Linked DNA regions of Homo sapiens: region 2 is linked to region 1. The links come from fine-mapping of genetic effects on gene expression. A gene starts in region 1. The other region holds a variant in brackets. All regions are shown on one strand. Distances are from middle to middle.

Region 1 (5,000 bases):
CTAACATTAATTAAATTTAGGTACCTCAATACATGCCGCGTGATCCTAGTAGTTTTTTCACAACCTTCTACAAGTTTTTGGAAAACATCTGTTATGATGACTTTCATACACCTTCACCTCAAAGGCTTTCTTGCACCTGGAAATTAAATATTACATTTCGAATTCCCATTTTTATTTGCATTTTGTTGGGCATCTTATATGTAGGAATGGTCCAAGAAGAGAATCTCATTCCTTTAGGAACTGTACTTGCAACCTACCTTTCAGACTCCCAAACCACTTTTTAATAAAAAAGTACTATTATTCTATTACCTGTTTCTGCTTTTTTGATAGTCAGTACTGACAAACCCAAACCTCTGTAACTGAGTATGTTTGTCTCATTAGTACCTAGTATTTCCACAAATGAGCTTATTCCAAACTGGAAACAGGAGCCATTAGCACTGGCAGGAAAATGGTGGAAACATTTCATGATATCCTTCACTGTGGCAGTTTTGATTTTAAGACATAATGGTCATAGTGAGTACACAGCCGTTGCTTTTCTGTCTCACAGCTCGACAAGGATGAGCTATGAGCCAGGTTAGATGTATAAAAACTAACGTGAAGACCTTCACCTAAAAACATTATAACGGCAAACCTAGCAGTTTCAGAGCAGGGATACCTATATTGGCATTTTTACTGGACACATTCCTGTAAAATTAAGTCCCAAGTTAACTAAAAACTGCAAAGAACATGGACTGGGGCAAAAAATCATGTCATACAGCAGCCCAGGAGAATAAATCATTGAGCCAGGCAGCAATACGAAATGATTTATGAAGACATACAAGGTTGGAGCTTGCAAAAACAATCATTTTCATGTGCTGAAATGCTGAAAATGTTTCACACAATCAGTATTAGGAATATAAACTACTGGTTTTGAATAATTCAAAAAAAATTAACTGAAACAAAAAAAGTTTCAGTTTAATATTATGATTCACAGGAACTACAGACAACTACATGCATAATCCTGTCTTTACAAAGCTTAAAAAATGGGCCGGACACGGTGTCTCCCGCCTGTAATCCTAGCACTTTGTGGGGTCGGGGCGGGTGGATCACCTGAGGTCAGGAGTTCTAGACCAGCCTGGCCAAACCCCATCTCCACTAAAAATACAATAATTAACTGGGCATGATGGTGGGTGCCTGTAATCCTAGCTACTCGGGAGGCTGAGGAAGGAGAATCGCTTGAACCTGGGAGATGGAGGTTGCAGTGTGCTGACATCGCGCCACTGCACTCCAGCCTGCACGACAGGAATGAGAATCCATCTCAAAAAAGCAACAAAAAACCCCACAAAGCTATCCACACCACCCCCCTCCCCCACAAAACCCAAAAGACTGATGGGCACAAAATTCCAAATGGTGGGTACCTATGAATAGGAAGCAGGGAAATGTAAACAATAGATACCCTAGTATTGGTAATATTATAGTTCTCAAATGTATCGGTGGATTCTTTTGTATTATGCTTCAGAACTTTCCTGCACTACCAATTTTATCAATTATTTAGTTTGAAAATTTTTAGAAGTCCCAGCACTTACCAGTGAAAACAGAATTCAAGCTACTGAAGCCTCAAAAATAATAATACCTAAAATATTTCAAGGATAAGCCATGACATTCGTCTTCTTGACAGTTAATGATTATTTCAGACGAAGCAATGCATTTCAAATTTGAAGAAAAAAAAAAACCTATACGAAGTCTCACTGATGAAATTTTAAAATTTGTTTCTATGGCCGGGCGCGGTAACTCACGCCTATAATCCCAGCACTTTGAGAGGCCTAGGCGGGTGGATCACGAGTGGTCAGGCTGGTCAGGAGTTCAAGACCAGCCTGGCCAGATGGTGAAACCCCGTCTCTACTAGAAATACAAAAATTAGCCGGGCGTGGTGGCAGGCGCCTGTAATCCCAGCTACTCGGGAGGCTGAGGCAGAGAACTGCTTGAACCCCGGGAGGTGGAGGATTCAGTGAGCCAAGATCGCGTCACTGCACTCCACCCTGGGCGACAGAACAGACTCTGGCTCAAAAAAAAAAAAAAAAAAGTTTCTGAATAGCTAACAGGTTTTCCCAGCCTCCCAGTTGCTGACCGGTTTCTTCTGTATTATGTCCAGAAATACACATCTCTATGTAAATACAAGCATCTCCGTGTGTAGCAGGCATTTAGCCTAAGGGCCTCCTATACTTGCACGTGTTGTTCTCCAACCTCCATGCCTTGACTTTAGCGCGTATTACGAAGGAAGGTCCAGGAACAAATACTGACTAGCTCTACGAATGGGTCGAGACTAGTAATGACTCAGTAAACTGCGCTCATTACAGTTTCAAAGCCACTCACAAAGTACGGTTAACTAAGGGTCGTCCTGACACCTAAGGGATAATCACCTTCCTATTTATAAAACGCTCCCTTTTAAGGAAAACAAGCTGCCTAAGAGCCTGAAACCGCCAAGGCCGCACGCACAACTTTGCTGGGGACACAAGAGAGATCTGGCCAAGACCGGGTGGAGCACGAAGCCTCCCGACGGTCCCTTGCAGGCACCTCCTTAAGTCAGAAGGCCCTTGCCCAGTTTCTGAGCAGAGGACAGCGAACCGGTGTTGACGGAGAAAGGTCAGCTAAGCCTTCCAGGTGGTTACTCACAAAACGCGACTGCGCAAATGGCTTGTGGGGAAAGCTCGTGGGCCTTGGGGGCACCGGGAGCGTAGCCTTTTGGCCTACGCAGCAGCCGCCCGCTCCGCTGCGCCCGGGGAAGGGACAGGGGCCGCGCTGGGCACCCATATGGCGGAGGAACCCGGCACGTAGAGGAGTTGGACCTAAGACCGCGATCACTCTCACCTCGCAGAGCCCAGCTACGGGCCCGCAGTCTCCGCCGCCGCCACCACACCGGCATGACTAACGGCTCTTCGCGCTTCTTCCTCCCTCGCCGGTCGCGCGGGAAAGGAAGAGCGACATCGGAAGACAGCTCTTAGGCACTCCGGTGGCCCCGCCTCTTCCGGTACGCGGCCCCGCCCCTCCGCGGGTGCGAAGGGGGGCTGAGTGCACCGGCTCTGGGGAGGGGGCGGAGGGGAGATGAGACCCGCACCTTAGCCCTCTTCCCTGGTTGCGCGGTGCGGCGACGCTGTGTGCCACACAGCAAGTTTATGTGGGGGCTTTGTGACTTCCCGCAGGGGCTTTTCAGGCTCAGGAGTAACTCTGCTAGAGCTAGTCAATGTTTAATTTACCAGTTTGCAGTGGATGCAAACGAGCAGAATATGCCCTAAAAGGCCGGGCGCGGTGGCTCAAGCCTGTAATCCCAGCCCTTTGGGAGGCCTAGGCGGGAGGATCACCCGATGTCAGGAGTTCGAGACCAGCCTGGCCAACATGGTGAAACCCCCATCTCTACTAAAAATACAAAAAAATTGGCCGATTGTGGTGACGCGTGCCTGTAGTCCCAGCTACCCGGAAGCTGAGGCACGAGAAATCGCTTGAACCCGGGCAGCGGAGGTTGCAGTGAGCCAAGATCGCGCCACTGCACTCTAGCCTGGGTAAGGCTCCGTCTCAAAACAAACAAACAAACCAAAAAACATATATATAGCATTCATAAAGCAGTTACCTACCTTGTTTATGAACATGTTATAATTTGCTGTTGATTTTCACGTCTTATTACTTCTGTTTTTCTCATTGTATTATAGAATCCTGACTGCAAAGCACTGGGCTTGATGCTGGAGCAGAAAGGCTTATGATCTTGTTGCCAGAAAGAATACACATGAAAGCATATGATTAAACAATCTACTCACTTAAAGATAGGTCATCTCTCCTTAATATTTTTGGCTTTTGTTTTGTTTTGAGGCGGAGTCTCTCTCTGTCGCCCAGGCTGGAGTGCAGTGGCTCGATTTCAGCTCACTGCAAGCTCCGCCTCCCGGGTTCACGCCATTCTTCTGCCTCAGCCTCTCGAGTAGCTGGGACTACAGACGCCCGCCACCACGCCCAGCTAATTTTGTTGTATTTTCAGTAGATCCGGGGTTTCACCGTGTTAGCCAGGATGGACTCCATCTCCTTACCTCGTGATCTGCCTGCCTCGGCCTCCCAAAGTGCTGGAATTACAGGTGTGAGCCACTGCGCCCGGCCAATTTGTTTTTGTGTTTTGGTTGGTTGGTTTTGTTTTTAGAGACAGGGTCTCCCTCTGTTGCTCAGCCTGGAGTGCAGTAGTGCAGTCATGGCTCATAGCAGCTTCCATCTTCTAGGATCCTCAAGAGATTCTCCCACCTCAGTCTTGAGTAGCTAAATGCTCACCACCATGCCCTGCTAATTTTTAAAACGTTTCGTAGAAATGCGGGGGTCTCACTATGTTGGCCAGGCTGGCCTCCAACTCCTGGCCTTAAGCTATCCTCTCGACTTGGCTTCTCAAAGTGCTGGGATTACAGGCATGAGCCACAGCGCCTGGCCAATCTCTCCTTTAGACACCGGAAATCTAAGAAACGAATACAAAATCCGGTACAAAATTTCAATTTGTCTCAAGTAACATAGAGTATGAATATCTAAGCCTAGTAAGCCTAGCAAAACAAATTGTGATTGTACCTCCTTTAACAAAGGATTGCAAAGTATTTTACAGGAGCTTAAAAATCTTTGCTTGGGCCTCCAAATGGAAGCCGTTTCTCCTGTTAAGTAGTGACATGGACCTCAACCTGCTTCTTGGACTAAGATTCCTGGCTGGATGTTGCTTCCACAACCTAATTTTGCAACCTGGGCTGTCACCTCCAGTGTGAAGGGGAAGCTGTGGGAGCCACCATTACTAAAAGGTATAAGTGAGAGTTAGTTTGGACATTAAATCCATAGATGCTAAGGCAACAATTTAGGCAAGTTCTTGGTGTCACTGAGTGCAGGGCCATATGATAACTGGAGGCAAACATGGACAATTCCCCTGCCATGGTTCCAGAGAGGATAGCTCCTGCGTTGCTAACAGCTTTGTGTTGTCTCCTGCAGGCATTCACAGGGCATTCATTGACCTC
Region 2 (5,528 bases), 120 kb before region 1:
GAGAAAACACCAAGATCATATCTTCTCCTAAGATAATAAATGAGTAATATGTATTTGGAACTGTAACAGCACGTTCTAGCCTTAGCACTTGCCATACATGATCTCCTTTAAAACTCACAGCAAATCTGTAAGGTCATTGTTAAAATTATCCTCATTTTATAGGCAGGAAAATGAGACGCAGATGTTGAGTATTTTATCCTAGGTCACACGATACTAGGTATTTTATTGGGACTAAAAAAGACGATTAGTTTGTGACATTTTATTGGTATAATTTATGTTATACTTTGGATGATCATAAATTCAAAAGTATGTCTTATGATGGATTTTCTTTAAAATAAGATTGTATTTGGCTTTGATGTGTGCATAACTAGAAGACTTATAAAATTAGTTCATATAATGTTATTTTTAAAAATTTTAGTTAAAAAAACAGTTTCCTGCTATGGCCCTGAAGATTCCTGCCAAGAGAATATTTGGTGATAATTTTGATCCAGGTAAGAAACAACTTCATAGGCCAGCTATGAAGTGATTGTTGAAGTTTGAAGAAGTAAATTAATGTATTCATTGCACTGTATAGCAGTGCAGGACTTTAAAAGATCTTATGCTCTGTGAAAATAATGCCGCAGGAAGGTGCTTACTGTCTACTAGGCATTGTTTTAAGTACTTCATGTGTTTTAATTCATTCGATCCTGACAACTTCGTGAGGTGGGTATTGTTGTTATCACTATTTTTATAGATAAGGAAATAAAACACAGGTTCATTAATTTGCCCAGGACCACATACAGATAGTAAAGGGCAGATGTGGAAGTTAAATTCAAGCAGTCTGACTTCTATATAAATTTATCTGTCAATGGGCTGGGCACAGTGGCTCACACCTGTAATCGAAACACTTTGGGAGGCCAAGGCAGGAGGATCACTTCAGGCCAGGAGTTTTGAGACCAGCCTGGGCAACCTCATCTCTACAAAAATTTAAAGATTAGCTGGGCATGGTGGCGTGCACCTGTAGTCCCAGCTACTCAGGAGGCTGAGGCGAGAGGATAGCTTGAGGTCAGTAGTTCAAGGCTGCAGTGAGCTGTCATCATGCCATTGCACTCCAGGCTGGGTGACAGAGCGAGACCCTATTAAAAAATTTTTTAATTGATCCTTCAGGTTAATTTGGGAAACTTTACAGACTTTAAATCAGTATCATGAAGAATATTCACTTTTGTATTCAGAAACATTAAATATATACTGTGTACATAGTAACTTGTAGGCCTCTGAATGGGATACCAAAAAGATATCCTAAGCCGGGCACGGTGGCTCACGCCTGTAATCCTAGCACTTTGGGAGGCTGAGGCAGGTGGATCACAAGGTCAGGAGATCGAGACCATCCTGGCTAAAACGGTGAAACCCCGTCTCTACTAAAACTACAAAAAATTAGCCGGGCATGATGGTGGGCGCCTGTAGTCCCAGCTACTCGGGAGGCTGAGGCAGGAGAATTGCTTGAACCCGGGAGGCAGAGGTTGCAGTGAGCTGAGATCAGCAGCACTGCACTCCAGCCTGGGCGACAGAGCGAGACTTCATCTCAAAAAAAAAAAAAAAAAAGAGAGAGGGACATCCTATTGCTTACCCTTGGGGAACCCATGGACACAGAGGGTCTCAGCATCTAGCACCTCTATGACTAAAGCTGCAGGCATGGAATTTTCCCCTAGAACCCAAGAGATTAATCCAGGTCACAGATGGCTACTTACAGGGAAACAAAAGTCTTCTTATCCACCAGAAATTCTATCAGAAAAGTCATCTATCTCTGCCACAGATGAATCCTGAATGGATTGCCCTCCTTCCCCAACTAATTTGCTTGTAACCTTGTAACTGGTTAAACTGATAATACCTCACATGTCTGTGTAAGAAAAGAAAGAGAGAGATCTTGGTCACTACTCAAGATAAAAGCTCTAAGGTCCCTTATATTGAGTGTGCTTTCTCTCTCCATCCTAACTTTATACCATTCGTTTTCCTCCCAGACCATATCACTGTGTCCTATATAATTCTGCCCACCATTAACGGACTGCTCTTTATCCTGCACCTTTTTCATATTTCTTCTACATTCTTCCTTTAATTAAAACATTTTTTCCCCAGAGGCTGCTTTGCCTATAGCCCTCTCAACTGGAGGCTTATTATTCTTTACACTTTATGAACCTCTGGTTTGGAGAATGTTCTTACTTCCCTGGTTACATACAGAGTTTTTTTTTTCTCTCTTTCTTTCTTTTTTTTCCCCCCTTGGGAGTATATAGCACATTTCATTGTAATTGCTAATCTGTCTTACAGTAGGCTGTAGATTTTCTGAAGGTGCAGACTTATGTCTTTTTTTATTGGCGAACAGTGGCAATATACTGGTTTTAAGGTATTATTTTATTACTTTAAAACTGGCAAATACTAGGTTTTAAAGTATTACTAAATATATGAACCCATTAATAAAGAGAAGCAAGAGAAAATTGAGTTGGCACAACAAAGCCAGATTATATTCTGTAGACCTGTGGCTTTTGTACTCCTGCTTTGTTTTCGCAGCGGAACACTTTTTTCCCAATTGAAATCTTACAGAGAGCAGATATGGTAGCTACGCCTGTAATCCCAGCACTTTGGGAGGCTGAGGTGGGCGGATCACTTGAGGCCAGGAGTTCAAGACCAGCCTGGCCAAAATGGTGAAACCCCGTCTTTACTAAAAATAGAAAAATTAGCCAGGCATAATGGTGCATGCCTGTAGTCCCAGCTACTCGGGAGGCTGGAGCAAGAGAATCACTTGAATCCAGGAGTCGGAGGTTGCAGGTGAGCCAAGATCGCACCATTGCACTCCAGCCTGGGCAACAGAGCAAGACTCTGTCTCGAAAAAAAAAAAAAAAAAGAAAACACAAAAGAAATCTTATGGAAATGTAATATGTGAAAAAAATTTAAATGGAGCTGCTTTATTGGTATAACAGTGAAGTATCTCCTTGGAGCACAGGTTGAAAAGCATCTTCATGGGTAGCGTGTGGGCCTTAGTGGCATTTGAGCAAGATGTGAAACTGACAGTGTGTAATTTATGGTGGGCACAGCAGAGGAGAGACTGGGAGACTTGTTAAGGGAATAGTCCAATAGCCCTGGCATTAGATAATGAGTATGGGGACTAGGGTAGAAATAGGGTTTAAAAATGAGCAATGTACAAGAACTCCTTTAATGAAAAATCTGGAATACATCTTGATGATTGCTTAGGTAACACATATAGAGAAGAGGAGAGATAATTGGAGGGTCTGCCCTGGGTGACTGAGACAATTAACTAATTAGAAGTGGCAGAAAAATATTAAGAAATCAAACTACTAGTGATAATATGAGACTTG[A/C]ACTTGGGTTGGAGTTCTGTAGAGCCCTTAACTGAATCCTTAAGACAATCATTTCATCAAGGAAAGAAAGCAAAGAAGTAAAAGACTGGCAACATTGCTGCTTCATTGTTAAAGGCAAGATACCAGGCTGAATGCTCTTTGGTACTTTGTTTTGATGAATTAATTGACACTAAAAACTGATTTTTTTGAAGAGCTGTTTGTCTATCCTGCGTATATTTAATATGACTTGGCAACAGTGAAAAGGATCATATGTCACAGAGATATTAGAAAGTCCTGCATTGGGGAAATCAGATCTAAGTCAAATTCAGAAAAACAGAGATGGATAAGATGCTCATTTGGTTATACTTTGGGGATACAGGCATTCCCATATTTTTCTGGTGGAATAAAAAGTGTTACAATCCATGTTGAGGGGAGTTTGGTAGTGTTTAGAAAAACTGTGAATGCATTTTCCACTTTGGCCAAGAAATCACATTTCTAGGAATCTGTCCCTAAAATAAGCTGCATATGATATAATGTACACACAAGACTGTGTATTGTGACACAATTTTTAACAGAAAAACTGGAAACAATGAAAATATTTTTCCAGTGGAGCTAGATATAACATACTTGTAAAAAGGAACAAAAAAGCTCTTTATGTATTTTGCTATGGTGTGATCTCCAGAATATACCATTAAATGGAAAAAAAAATCACAGTGCAGCAAATGAGTTTGTATGGTGTGTATTTTTTCTGTAGGAAAAGGTATGGGGATTCAAAAGGAAATAATGGAAGAATAAATAAAAAACTAATAAAACTAGTGACTTTAAGGATGAGGGAGAGATTGGGAAAGGCAAAAGGGGTGGAAGTTAGATGCCCTTGAATGAATTTTGTTCATACCTTTGACTTTGGAACCATGTACTATTTTAAACAATTTAAAAACAAAAATAAAAATGCAATAACAAAGCAGCCTCTAACAACTGAAAATAAACTGAAGGAAAAAACCTAACTTAATTTAAGTAACTTTAAAACATGGGATTTTGACTGTATATTCTTCATGGGATATATTGCTAAGGATAAAAACAAAAACCCATGGACAAATTTTACACTGCATTCATTAGTGTTATATGGCGTTGTTATTCTGTGATTAATGTTACTGTCATGGGAACCAAGATTTTAAGCAGAAGAGGAAAGTGATACAAACAAAATCAAAGATTTTAAGTAAAAATCCTGTAATTTTTTTTTTTTTTTTTGAGATGGAGTTTCGCTCTCATTGCCCAGGCTGGAGTGCAGTGGCATGATCTTGGCTCACCACAGCCTCCACCTCCTGAGTTCAGGCGATTCTCCTGCCTCAACCTCATGAGTAGCTGGGATTATAGGATGCGCCACCACACCTGGTTAATTTTGTATTTTTAGTAGAGATGAGGTTTCTCCATGTTGGTCAGGCTGGTCTCGAACTCCTGACCTCAGGTGATCCACCCACCTTAGCCTCCCAAAGTGCTGTGATTACAGGCGTGAGCCACTGCACTCAGCAAAATCCTGTAATTTGTAACTTAATTTGGAAATATAGTTTGAAATAATTATTTATTTATTTATTTATTTATTTTTTGAGACAGAGGCTCTCCCTTGTTGCTCAGGCTGGAGTGCAGTGGCGTGATCTCGGCCCACCACAACCTCCACCTCCCCAGTTCAAGCGATTCTCCTGTCTCAGCCTCCTGAGTAGCTGGGATTACAGGCGTGTGCCACCATGCCCGGCTAATTTTGTATTTTTAGTAGAGACAGGGTTTCTCCATGTTGGTCAGGCTGGTTTTGAACTCCAACCTCAGGTGATCCACTGGCCTCAGCCTCCCAAAGTGCTGGGATTACACCACCACCACTCCTGGCTCATAATTTATTTTTTTACCTTAGTAAAAATATTTTCTAGCACTCTCTCCTGGAAATGCCTAAAAGCAATAACAAGTAGTAACCAACACCCCTAGCATTCAGATTGTGATCTCTAAATACCATTTCCCTCTCAAAGGAACCAGAGTTTGCTGAAGAAATGGTGATCCCAGATCTGGGGCAGGAAATGTACAAGATGATCTCAGGGCAGCTTGCCTGAAAGCAGGGAAGCTATTTAGGATGACTGAAGTTTGATCAAAAGAACACAGGAGCCCAGTTGTCGGGGCTTTCACTGAGCAAAGATTAGACAGAATGGTGAAAGTAAT

The links.
Region 2: its variant is fine-mapped to the expression of SNHG6 in whole blood (TOPMed, PIP above 0.99).

What each region holds. Positions count from the first base shown.
Region 1 is chr8:66,922,590-66,927,589 of GRCh38, forward strand. SNHG6 (small nucleolar RNA host gene 6) reads right to left here and starts at 2,952. Exons shown (of 4, transcript NR_152600.1): 1 at 2,848-2,952; 2 at 25-136. It also overlaps a transcript of MCMDC2 not described here. RefSeq lists an enhancer at 2,732-3,931 and a silencer at 2,924-3,123.
Region 2 is chr8:66,803,957-66,809,484 of GRCh38, forward strand. C8orf44-SGK3 (C8orf44-SGK3 readthrough) reads left to right here. Exons shown (of 19, transcript NM_001204173.2): 6 at 419-491. It overlaps SGK3 (serum/glucocorticoid regulated kinase family member 3), which reads left to right. Exons shown (of 17, transcript NM_001033578.3): 4 at 419-491. Among named protein-coding and RNA genes, the nearest start is that of MCMDC2, 64 kb to the right of the region's middle. The variant A/C (reference allele first, on the strand shown) is at 3,348.